Linked DNA regions of Homo sapiens: region 1 is linked to region 2. The links come from fine-mapping of genetic effects on gene expression. A gene starts in region 2. The other region holds a variant in brackets. All regions are shown on one strand. Distances are between the middles of the regions.

Evidence for each region. PIP is the estimated chance that this variant, and not a neighbour inherited with it, causes the effect.
Region 1: its variant is the best candidate, but not a certain one, in a credible set for the expression of VGLL4 in prefrontal cortex (ROSMAP, PIP 0.66).

What each region holds. Positions count from the first base shown.
Region 1 is chr3:11,462,444-11,467,821 of GRCh38, forward strand. All of the region lies in intron 20 of ATG7 (autophagy related 7), which reads left to right. Among named protein-coding and RNA genes, the nearest start is that of VGLL4, 180 kb to the right of the region's middle. The variant A/AGT (reference allele first, on the strand shown) is at 2,645.
Region 2 is chr3:11,641,484-11,646,861 of GRCh38, forward strand. It overlaps VGLL4 (vestigial like family member 4), which reads right to left and starts at 2,432. Exons shown (of 5, transcript NM_001128219.3): 1 at 1,954-2,432. The coding sequence starts at 2,035. RefSeq lists enhancers at 1,016-1,385, 2,576-2,655.

The DNA of each region.
Region 1 (5,378 bases), 180 kb before region 2:
GGAAAGCATTAAGGTAAAGCCATGATGGGGGTTTCCTTGGAAAAGTCAAGGCAGGGCAGCGTGAACACTTTAGGGTTGGCTAGTTTGAATAATCTCAGGGGCCCTAAGCTATAGGAATGGTCCCTAGTTGACTGTACCTGGCCCTGGGATGATGAAAGCAGAGGAATTTTGCCTCTTCGGGTGTTGGGCCAGATAGAGGAGGTGTGGCTCTGAATTGGTTAGTTCGCATGTCAGAAGTGTACTCCTGGCTGGGCCCTTTGCTGGCTCTAAGAATTAACTATCCTCTCGCCACCCCCCCAGGGGCAGTCTTCCCAGCTAGAAAGGTTTTTTAAAAGATGTTCAAACATCGTAACATACATAAATATGTAACACAAGGGCCCTGGCTCCTCTCAGATATTTTTATTTATTTATTTATTTATTTATTTATTTATTTATTTATTTATTTATTTATTTATTTTTGAGACAGAGTTTTGCTCTTGTTGCCCAGGCTGGAGTGTAATGGTGCGATCTCTGCTCACTGCAACCTCTGCCTCCTGGGTTCAAGCGATTCTTCCACCTCAGCCTCCCAAGGAGCTGGGATGACAGGCATGTGCAATCATGCCCAGCTAATTTTGAATTTTTAGTAGAGATGGGGTTTTGCCATGTTGATCAGGCTGGTCTCAAACTCCTGATCTCAGGTGATCTGCCCTCCTCCGCCTCCCAAAGTGCTGGGATTACAGGCGTGAGCCACCATGCCCGGCCCCTCTCAGATATTTCTATCCATTGTCATACTCCCACTCTTTCCCTAACTACTACTGACTTCAGCTTGCAGCAGAAAATTCAGCCTTTGTAAGCTTGAGAGGACTCAGGTTGCTGACCAAAAGCAGAAGAGGCCTCCCTTCAAAATGTATGGAATGTTGCAAAAAGTAGACAGTGATCCTCAATAATCAGATACTTCCCTCAGAATGGTCTGCTAAACCTTCAGTCTTGTTGAACCAATTGGTTCAGTACTTTGTAACAGAACTTGGGAATTTCTCCACCCTGGATGGGATATTTCTTATGGCCTCCCATCCCAATTCATGTCAGCCCTTCCCGCATTTAGACTTGGTTACTTTCAACTCTTTACTCCTGGCATCATTTTTAAATGATTCAGGACTCTTGGTTTCAAGTGACATAAACCCACCTTGAATTATCATAGGTGGAGAGTGTTGGAGCATTGAACATAATGGAAAGAAAAGTTAGCTTTTTTCTACAGTTCTGATAGGAACAGGTTCTCTCCCTGCAGACTGGCGTCTTCTGCTAGACAGGAAGTGTGACTACTGGCAGCTCCAGAGCCTCATAATCCATAGCTTCAGTTGCCTGGCATGCACTGGCCCTGGACTTCTCACACCCCAAACTCTCATATGTGGGCCCAGCTGGCTCTCTTGCTCATTTTGGGACCAGTCAAGTTAGACTAGAGAGGCAGAGTCTGTAAAGGAACGTGGTTGGTGTGGGGGAAAAAGCAGTTTCCATAAGAAGGTGGTGGTCCCAGGAAGACAGGATGGTGGCAAAACCAAAGGTGTTTGTGACAAACCTGAGAGCATATCAGGAAGAGGAATGATTAAATCATTTAAGTGACAAGAGCAGGTTGAAAAACAACAGGTGTAGTATGCTTTTGTAAAAAAATTGGCCAGGCATAGTGGCTCATGCCTATAATCCCAGCACTTTGGGAGGCCAAGGCAGGCGGATCACTTGAGCCCAGGAGTTTGAGACTAGCCTGGGCAACATGGTGAAACCCCATCTCTACAAAAAATACAAAAATTGGCCAGGCATGGTGTTATGCACCTGAAGTCCCAGCTACTTGGGAGTCTGAGGTGGGAGGATTGCTTGAACCCAAGAGGTCGAGACTGCAGTGAGCCATGACTTGCACTACTGCGTTCCAGCCTGGGTGAACGAGCAAGACCCTGTCTCAAAATTAAAAATTAAAAAATTATGTATTCAGTAAATCTTTTCTAATTGACTTTCCATTAATGGAATGTCCCAGTTGGTTAACTCCGCACCCCCTCGGTAAAGTACGGGGGGAGGCTGAACATTCTTAGCTGGCAGCCTGGTTCCTAGGACACCAGCACACTTCTGCTCCCACCAGCTGAGGCCTGGGCTTTCCAAGAGTCATTCTTGTTTCTTGCCAAACCTGGGAATGCCAGATGGACTTGTTGTTTTAATTATACCATTTAATTAAATATCCCCCAAACGAAAGACAAATACAGAAAGTTATTTCTGTGAAAGTCATTGCGAGTAGCTAGAAGCAGTGGCTTTTTGCAGAGGGGACAGGGCTTTTACCTTTTATTGCCGAATAGGTTCTGGAGTCTGACCCCCTATTTTCAAATTATAGCTCTACTGCTTCTTTGCTGTGTGACACCTTGGGCAAGTTGCAGAGTCATCCTAGGACTTGGCCCCTTTACTATAAAATGGAAATAGCAACCTTGTTTGGGTACTGTTAGGATTAAGTAATATAATGTATTTGAAGCACTTTGCACAGTTCTTGGGCACATAGTAAACACTCAACAGATGCCACATCTATCATCATCGTCATCAACAATCACAGCCTTATTAAAGATGTAGAGAGAAGTCATTGGCTGTAAAGGAAAAATTTTTTTTCTTATCAAATCAATCTCTAAAAACCTAA[A/AGT]GTGTGTGTGTGTGTGTGTGTGTGTGTAAGGACACCTCCAGAGAGTTCTAGAGCTGAGTGAAAACCTGGTTTATTAAAATGAGCCTGGGCCGGGCACAGTGGCTCACACCTGTAATCCCAGCACTTTGGGAGGCCGAGGCGTGTGGATCCAGATCGAGACCATCCTGGCTAACACGGTGAAACCCCATCTCTACTAAAAATTCAAAAATTAGCTGTGCATGGTGGTGGGCACCTGTAGTCCCAGCTACTCGGGAGGCTGAGGCAGGAGAATGGCGTGAATCCAGGAGGCAAAGCTTGCAGTGAGCCAAGATCACGCCACTGCACTCCAGCCTGGGTGACAGAGAGAGACTCTGTCTCAAAAAAAAAAAAAAATGAGCCTGTAAGTCTGGGTGCACATCTGTAATCTCAACACTTTGGGAGGCCGAAGTGGGATGATTGCTTGAGGCTAGGAGTGTGAGACCAGCCTGGGCGTGAGTGAAACCCCATGTCTACAAAAAGTTAGTAAAAAATAATAATAAAAAATAAAAATTAGCTGGGCGTGGTGGCACACACCTGTAGTCCTAGCTACTTGGAGAACTGAGGGGGAAGGATTGCTTGAACCCAGGAGGTCGTGGCTGCAGTGAGCAGTGATTGCACCACTGCACACCAACCTGGGCGACAGCGAGACCCTGCTTCAAAAAAATAAAAATAAAAAAGCCTGTAGCCCCTCTTCCTTCCCTAATATATTTGGCTTCTATAAAAATTAAAAACCCAGGGATAAGAAGAAGGGGAGAGAATTGGAAAGCCCCTGGTTAGCTTTAAGGGCCTCTCAGTGCAGCAGAACCCATGCTGGCTCTATTCATAACTTTGCTCTCTGGATCAATATTCTGAAAGTTGGTACATTCTTTTCATTTGTGTCTTTCACAGAGGGCAGTAAAATTTAGCTCTAATTATATTTAGGGCATCTGGATTCTAGTCAGCATTTTCTGGCTCCGTTTTAGAACCTAAAGTCTGCGGCTTATTCCTAATGTGGAAAATGGAATAATCCCCCAGGCATGAGAAGAACTCCAGCATTGAGGCTGCTGTTCCTCTAGCGAGAAGCTGCTGCAGACATCACAAGACTTGTTATACAAGGAAACATGATTACAGTGGATTAAAGAAACTTGCCAGGGGCTTGAAGGATTTATTGCTTTTTGAATTCTGAATGAGACATAAATATGTTTTTCCCCTCTTAATTTTGGACCCCATACGGGTAAGGTGAGAAAATTCTTCAGCAAATTCTAGAATGCTTAGCTGCTAAAGATCAGTTGGTTTTGTGTCCACGTCATATTGCAAAGGGCATGAATACTTGCTTGGCAGAGACACAAAACAGTCACTCATTTCTTTCTGTTCTGCCAAGTTAGTTACTGCCTTGTCTCCCAGTGGGAGAAAAATGTAACTCCTTGGGGACTCTTCTGGAAGGCAGCATGGTGTAATGGAAAAAGCACTGTAGTCACAGGCACGAGGCCTAGACTACAGCGTCGGTGCTTATAAGTTCCATTATTTACAACAGGTTTCTTAAACTCTGTAAGCCTTTGTGCTCTTACTGCTCTTTTCGGAAAAAGCAGTTCTCAGAGGGTTGTATGAAGGATTATAGCACCTTTATGTTCAATATCATCTATAGAAACTCAACTGTTGGATGCATTAGCATCAGAATGACAGCTTGTAGTACACTCATTTGTGTTCACAGATCTCAGAAATTTTTATGTCCTAAATGGAGGGACTTTTAAAAATAATGATGGAGCTGGGCATGGTGGCACACACCTGTAATCCCAGCACTTTGGGAGGCCGAGGCGGGCAGATCACCTGAGGTCAGGAGTTTGAGATCAGCCTGACTAACATGGTGAAACCCCATCTCTACAAATACAAAAAATTAGGTGTGGTGGCGGGCGCCTGTAATCTCAGCTGCTTTGGAGGCTGAGGCAGGAGAATCACTTGAACCCGAGAGGCAGAGGTTGCAGTGAGCTGACATCATGCCATTGCACTTCAGCCTGGGCAACAAGAGTGAAACCCCATCTCAGAAAAAAACAAAAACAAACAAAAAAAACTGATGGCTTCTTAACCCTATCACTTCTGCAGATTCTTTGGTTTCTCAGGAAGCCAAAGAGATAGCATGGGGCAGTGGTTAGTAACAACTCTGGAGTCAGACCAACCTGAGTTTAAATTCACTACTTATTAGCTGGGAAGTCTTTGAACAACTCACCTAACCTGTTGTTCTCATTTTCCTAATCCGTAAAATGGACATAAAATATTACCTCAACCGTAATTTGTTTTGTTTCGTTTTGTTTTGAGATGGAGTCTCCCTGTGTCGCCCAGGCTGCAGTGCAATGGTGCGATCTCGGCTTACTGCAACCTCCGCCCCCCAGCTTCAAGCGATTCTTCTGCCTCAGCCTCCCGAGTAGCTGGATTATAGGCATCCACCATCGTGCCTGACTAATTTTTGTATTTTTAGTAGAGGCGGGGTTTCACCATGTTCGCCAGGCTGGTCTTGAACTCCTGACCTCAGGTAATCCACCTGCCTTGGCCTCCCAGAGTGCTGGGATTACAGGCGTGAGCCAATGCGCCTGGCCCTATTTTTTTATTCCTTTGTCCTGTTTCCTATGTGGGACTTATCACCGTTTGGCATTATTATTTATTTGTGTTCTGTCTACCACCCCAGCCCCACTCAAATATAATCCCCATAAAGGCAAAGACATTATATGTCTTATTTACTGCT
Region 2 (5,378 bases):
TGCCCATCTTCAAAACACCCTCTGGAGTTCAGACCAGATGTGTGCAGTGTTTACACTGAGAAAACCACTAGGACATCAACAATTCACTATAAACACCACTCAAATTTTGCTGTGCTTTCCTTCATTTCCTCTGTATTTATTCTGGTGTTAAAATAATGTTAACTCTCATAATAAGGAAAATAGGAGCAGATGTTTAAACCAAACAGACTTCAGCCCATTATCCCATATAGCTACTCAATCTTCAAAATCAAAGTTTCTTCCTCCCAAATACCGAGAGAGAAGAGCAGAGCAGAGCACTCTAGTTTCCTGGGTGTTGCATGCTACACAACAACTCGACCTGGGCTCGCTGTCCGTAAGTTGGTCCTCACCAATCGGAGACAGGAAAAACTAATCTGGTATCAATTTCCTAACAATCTTATATTTCTCTCTTAGGCCATTATGTTTTGTTTTTAAAATATCGTATTACTTGTTGGCAAAGACAATACAACAGAAATTGCCTCAGAAGTTTTTCTTTCTTGTTGGGGGAAGCGGGGATGGTTAAAAAAAAAAAAAACAAGAAAAACAAAACCCTGACTACAATGTGTGAATGTCACGGGAAACAAGCCCAGCAATGGCTGCTTACGGCTTTCTAAAGTCGGCTGCCTTTTTTAAGTGAGTTCAGAAGCAAGATGTTACTTAACACATCAGATGCAAAGAAAGAAATTCACGAAAATTCTCATAGCAGGAACTAGTAGGAGTAAAGAAAAACAAATACTCTTTTTAAAAAACGTTAAATATGAGATCCTCATCCATAGAGTTTTAAAAAACAACGTGAATGAGGGTTGTTGTTGTTTTTTTTCCTTGAAGGGGAAAAATACTCTTGAAAGGGTGAGTTTTCAACTGATTAGGAAACAGGCCTGAAGTTTTTAGATTAAAAAAATACAAGTGAATCACCCTCCCAAGTTTTTGTAACTGTTTTCTTTTTCAAGAGAAATGTCCCGTGTATTATTGGAGAAAAAATGGAAACTGCTCCTGCTGAATGAGAAAGAGAAGAGTCCCGGATGTGTGTGTGGTTACAACAGAAAACACTCTTCCTGCCAGGCCGAACTCCCCCGGAGATGCCCTCGGCGGCAGACCCAGGGCCATTGCCACTTTTTCAAATCGCACGTAGAGGATGTCCGAGGGCTTAAGAAATAGATTTTTCTCTGACTGCTACCAGAGACAGTTGGAAATACAAGACAGTGGGGGAAGCACCTCGCGGGCAGTAGGAGGTAATAAATAACAGTTCGGCGCGGCTCTCTCTTTTTCAGGGCAGGCTGGGGGTCGGGGTGTTGTGTAATCGCTCCCACAGGGAGCGGAGCGCGAGGAACACCCCCCAGTGTCAGCGCTCCCCGGGCTGCACAGGAAGCGCCAGCGAGACAAAGAGCCCGCCTGTGCTCGCTGACACGGTGCCCTTCCGGCCCCACGCGGGAGAGGGACATTCTCCGCTGTTTGGGACGCTCACTCGCGAGCACAAAAACTCGCTGTAACTTTGGCTCCCCCTCCGTGAGCTGCAGGGCGCCGTGGCCCACAGCAGGGTACAGTAGACGGTGCAATCCTTACCAGCCCCTCCCCCAAAGAGGCTCAACTTTTACCGGCGTCCTACAAGTCCTTCCCCTAAAGACAATATTAACGGAAATCAAAAATACATACATTTTAAAGAGTTAAAAATGTGAGGCGCGAGTACGTTGCAAGCAACGAGCAAACTTTGAAGGGTTTCTACTTCACTGCCTCCCCGTCCAGCCCCCTCCACCGCCCCCCGCAGCCTGAGATCCGAACACACTCGGTGCCGAACCGAACCTAAGAAACGCCGGCCTTTCAAGTGCCCTACACCCCGGAGGAGGACAGCGGGCGCTTAGAAGGCAGGCACCCAGCACACTGAGGAGGAGTGGCCGGGACGAGCAACGGGCAGTAATTCTACAACGGGACATCTACCTTCGTAGCACAGAATGCCGATATTGTTGTTCATCTTGTCCAAGTACTGATAGTTCAACAGGTCCATCTTCATAAATAGCATTTATTGGGCTAGCAAAGAAAACCAGCTCTTTGCTTTTGCCCCAAAAGAGTTAAGTTTCAAAAATCAATTGTTGCTGAGTAGCTCCTGGCTCTTCAACTTCACAAAGGCAGAGGCCCAGCCTCAGACTATCAAAACAAAGTATGCAAAAGTTAAAAAAAAAAAAATCAGGCACAAAAAAATCGAGCTCACACGAAACCCTTCAAGGGCTTACTGGTAGACGGTGTATGTACTGTATCCCCGATCGAGTATGAAAACAGCGTTTCAGAAGTCCTTACAAGTCCTTCCTGGAAATGGAAAAGAGTGAAAAAGAGAAACGCGCAGCCCGTTTCCTAGGACAAAGCGGCGCCGGCCCCTCTCACAGCCCGCTGCAAGCCGGCAGCGCTGACATGAGGGCTATGCTTGGCATGACTCCTATGCCGCCGCTTCCTCTTCCCGCAGGAGGCCGAGCATGCTCACTGCGCCGCGCTGCCGAGGCAGGGAGGGCTTCTGCACAGGATCAGCCTCTCAATGTAGCAAGTGTTGGAAAGAAAGAGAAAGGGGAGGGGGAGAGACTCTAGAGACGGGGCCTTGGCAGAGTGGCTCTTGACAGGAAGCAGCCAAGCCGCTGCAAAACCGTAGGAGGAAAAAAGAAAACCCAGGAAGTTTCTTTTTCAGGAGCTAAGTACAAAGTAAAAAATCCATCATGGAAGCAAACTCCCATGGAATGCAACTTTCGTGAAACTTCATGTTGGGGTTTCGGAAACCCAAAGTGCTAGTGATGCATAAGCCATATATATATATATAGTGTCTTTGTTTCTTTTAAAGATTGTTTTATAATATCCATTTACACTTTAACTGGATATTTAAATTTCTGATGTTAATGTTACATATAGCTTCTTCCATAATCCCCATAACAACTGAGATGGACAGGGCAAGGAGGGTATCACCCTTTCACAGCAGAGGAAACAGGTTCAGATGGATTAAATGACTGGCCCACAGCCCCCAAAATAGTTGACAGAACTACTTTTAAAGTGTTTTTTCCCACCTAATGTTATAATTTTATTTAAAAAAACGAGGGGGCCGGGTGTAGTGGCTCACACCTGTAATCCTAGTCGAAGCAGGCGGATCACTTGAGGTCAAGAGTTCAAGACCAGCCTGGCCAGCATGGTGAAACCCCATCTCTACTAAAAATACATAAATTAGCCTGGTGTGGTAGCGCACGCCTGTAGTCCCAGCTACTCAGGAGGCTGAGGTGGGAGAATTGCTTGAACCTGAGAGGAGGAGGATGCAGTGAGCCAAGATCGTGACACTGCACTCCAGCCTGGGCAACAGAGTGAGACTTTGTCTCAAAAAAAAAAAAAAAAAAGAAAAGAAAAAAAGGAGACAAGGAGAGGAGAAGAGATGGAAGAGTGTTTAAGCAAATAGGGCTATAATATCAAAAATTAAAAGTGTACTTGAAATTATAGAGGGAAAGGGTAAAATTATTTTCATTTGGCATGTATGTCACCCACCTGTGTGTAAGAAGCTAGTGGCATGCAGCTGTACTATTTGCTATTGGAAGAACTTGGGGCTTAAACTTTGATTACCCAGTGCCTAGCACAACCAAGTTCAGGTGCCCAAAAACTGTTTACTGAACGAGTGAACCACTGAATGTTCAGTTTTCAGCACATCAAGAACGTGTTAACAAAATAGAAAAAAAAAAAACAAAAACTAAACATTTGAATTACTATTCTAAAAATATATTTTTAATATTCCAAAATAATATTTGAATAAATAATTTGAAGGAGTTGTATGTTAAAAATCCAGCAATAGGCCAGGCGCGGTGGCTCACGCCTGTAATCCCAGCACTTTGGGAGGCCGAGGCGGGTGGATCATGAGGTCAGGAGATCGAGACCATCCTGGCTAACACGGTGAAACCCCGTCTCTACTAAAAATACAGAAAATTAGCCGGGCGCGGTGGCGGGCGCCTGTAGTCCCAGCTACTCGGGAGGCTGAGGCAGGAGAATGGCGTGAACCCGGGAAGCGGAGCTTGCAGTGAGCCAAGATTGCGCCACTGCAGTCTGCAGTCCGCAGTCCGGCCTGGGCGACAGAGCGAGACTCCGTCTCAAAAAAAAAAAAAAATCCAGCAATAGTTGCATTGGGTTTATTAGGCACACTCATGGCAAGGTGTTCTAATGAAATCTTACTTGGGAGTCCGGATGCGGTGGCTCACGCGTGTAATCCCAGCACTCTGGGAGACTGAGACGGGCGGATCACTTGAGGTCAGGAGTTTGAGAACAGTCTGGCCAACATGGTGAAACCCTGTCTCTACTAAAAATACAAAAATTAGCCGGGCATAGTGGCATGTGTCTGTAATCCCAGCTACTAGGGAGGCTGAGGCAGGAGAATTGTTTGAACACGGGAGGCAGAGGCTGCAGTGAGCCAAGATTGTGCCACTGCACTCCAGCCTGGGTGACAGAACAAGACTCCGTCTCAAAAAACAAAACAAAACAAAAAAACTATATGACATCTAAATACTAAATACTGTTGCCGTCATTGCTGCAACAGTAATCACTGGGGTGACATCAGGGGAAGTAAGTAATAGGGGAATCAAGATTTCACAAGCTTTCATTTATAAGAATATTTATTGACACTATATTACATGTAATAAGCTATAGTGAAAGATATGTATCCTATCAATTGTAATTAAAATACTTAATGGTATTTGGTGGGGAGGGTTGAAGAAAACTCAAAACTCGTAACATCCAGTATACATGAGATCATTGCACTGAAAACAAACAATATCAGGTATCAGATTTAAATTTAACTGATAGTTTTGGAGTACTCTTACTGTGCTACGTTTTTACATAAATTCTCAATCAGAAAACTTTATCCATCATTGTCCCACATGGAAGAGAGGTGGCTGCACATTAGAACCAGGGGGGAGCTTTTAAAAATCTTGCTGCTGAGGTTGCATCCCCAACTCATCTGAGGTGGGAACCAGCAGCAGTAGCTTCTAAAGTCCCAGGTGATTCCAATATGCAGTCAAGGTTGAGAACCATTGCTTTCATCTAGGGAGGAAAAAAAAAAAAACCCTGCCTTAAGATATTTCATTTTATTCACTTATTTTGACATGAAGAATTTTTTTAATAGTAATTTAAGCAAATGATTCAAACAATACCATTGTAGAAAATGAATAAAATATTTGGTAACGTCCCTTAAGGGACTCAGCATCACTTAGAACAGCAGTTCTCAGCCTCCGGGTGGCAACCATTTTCGTGGACACCGTCTCACAGGTCTACCTTGACTATTGTAACATTCCCAGCCACAGCCACCACGTCTTTCCCGCTGATCCGGGAGGCTAGCACGGTGCTACCCAAGTGTG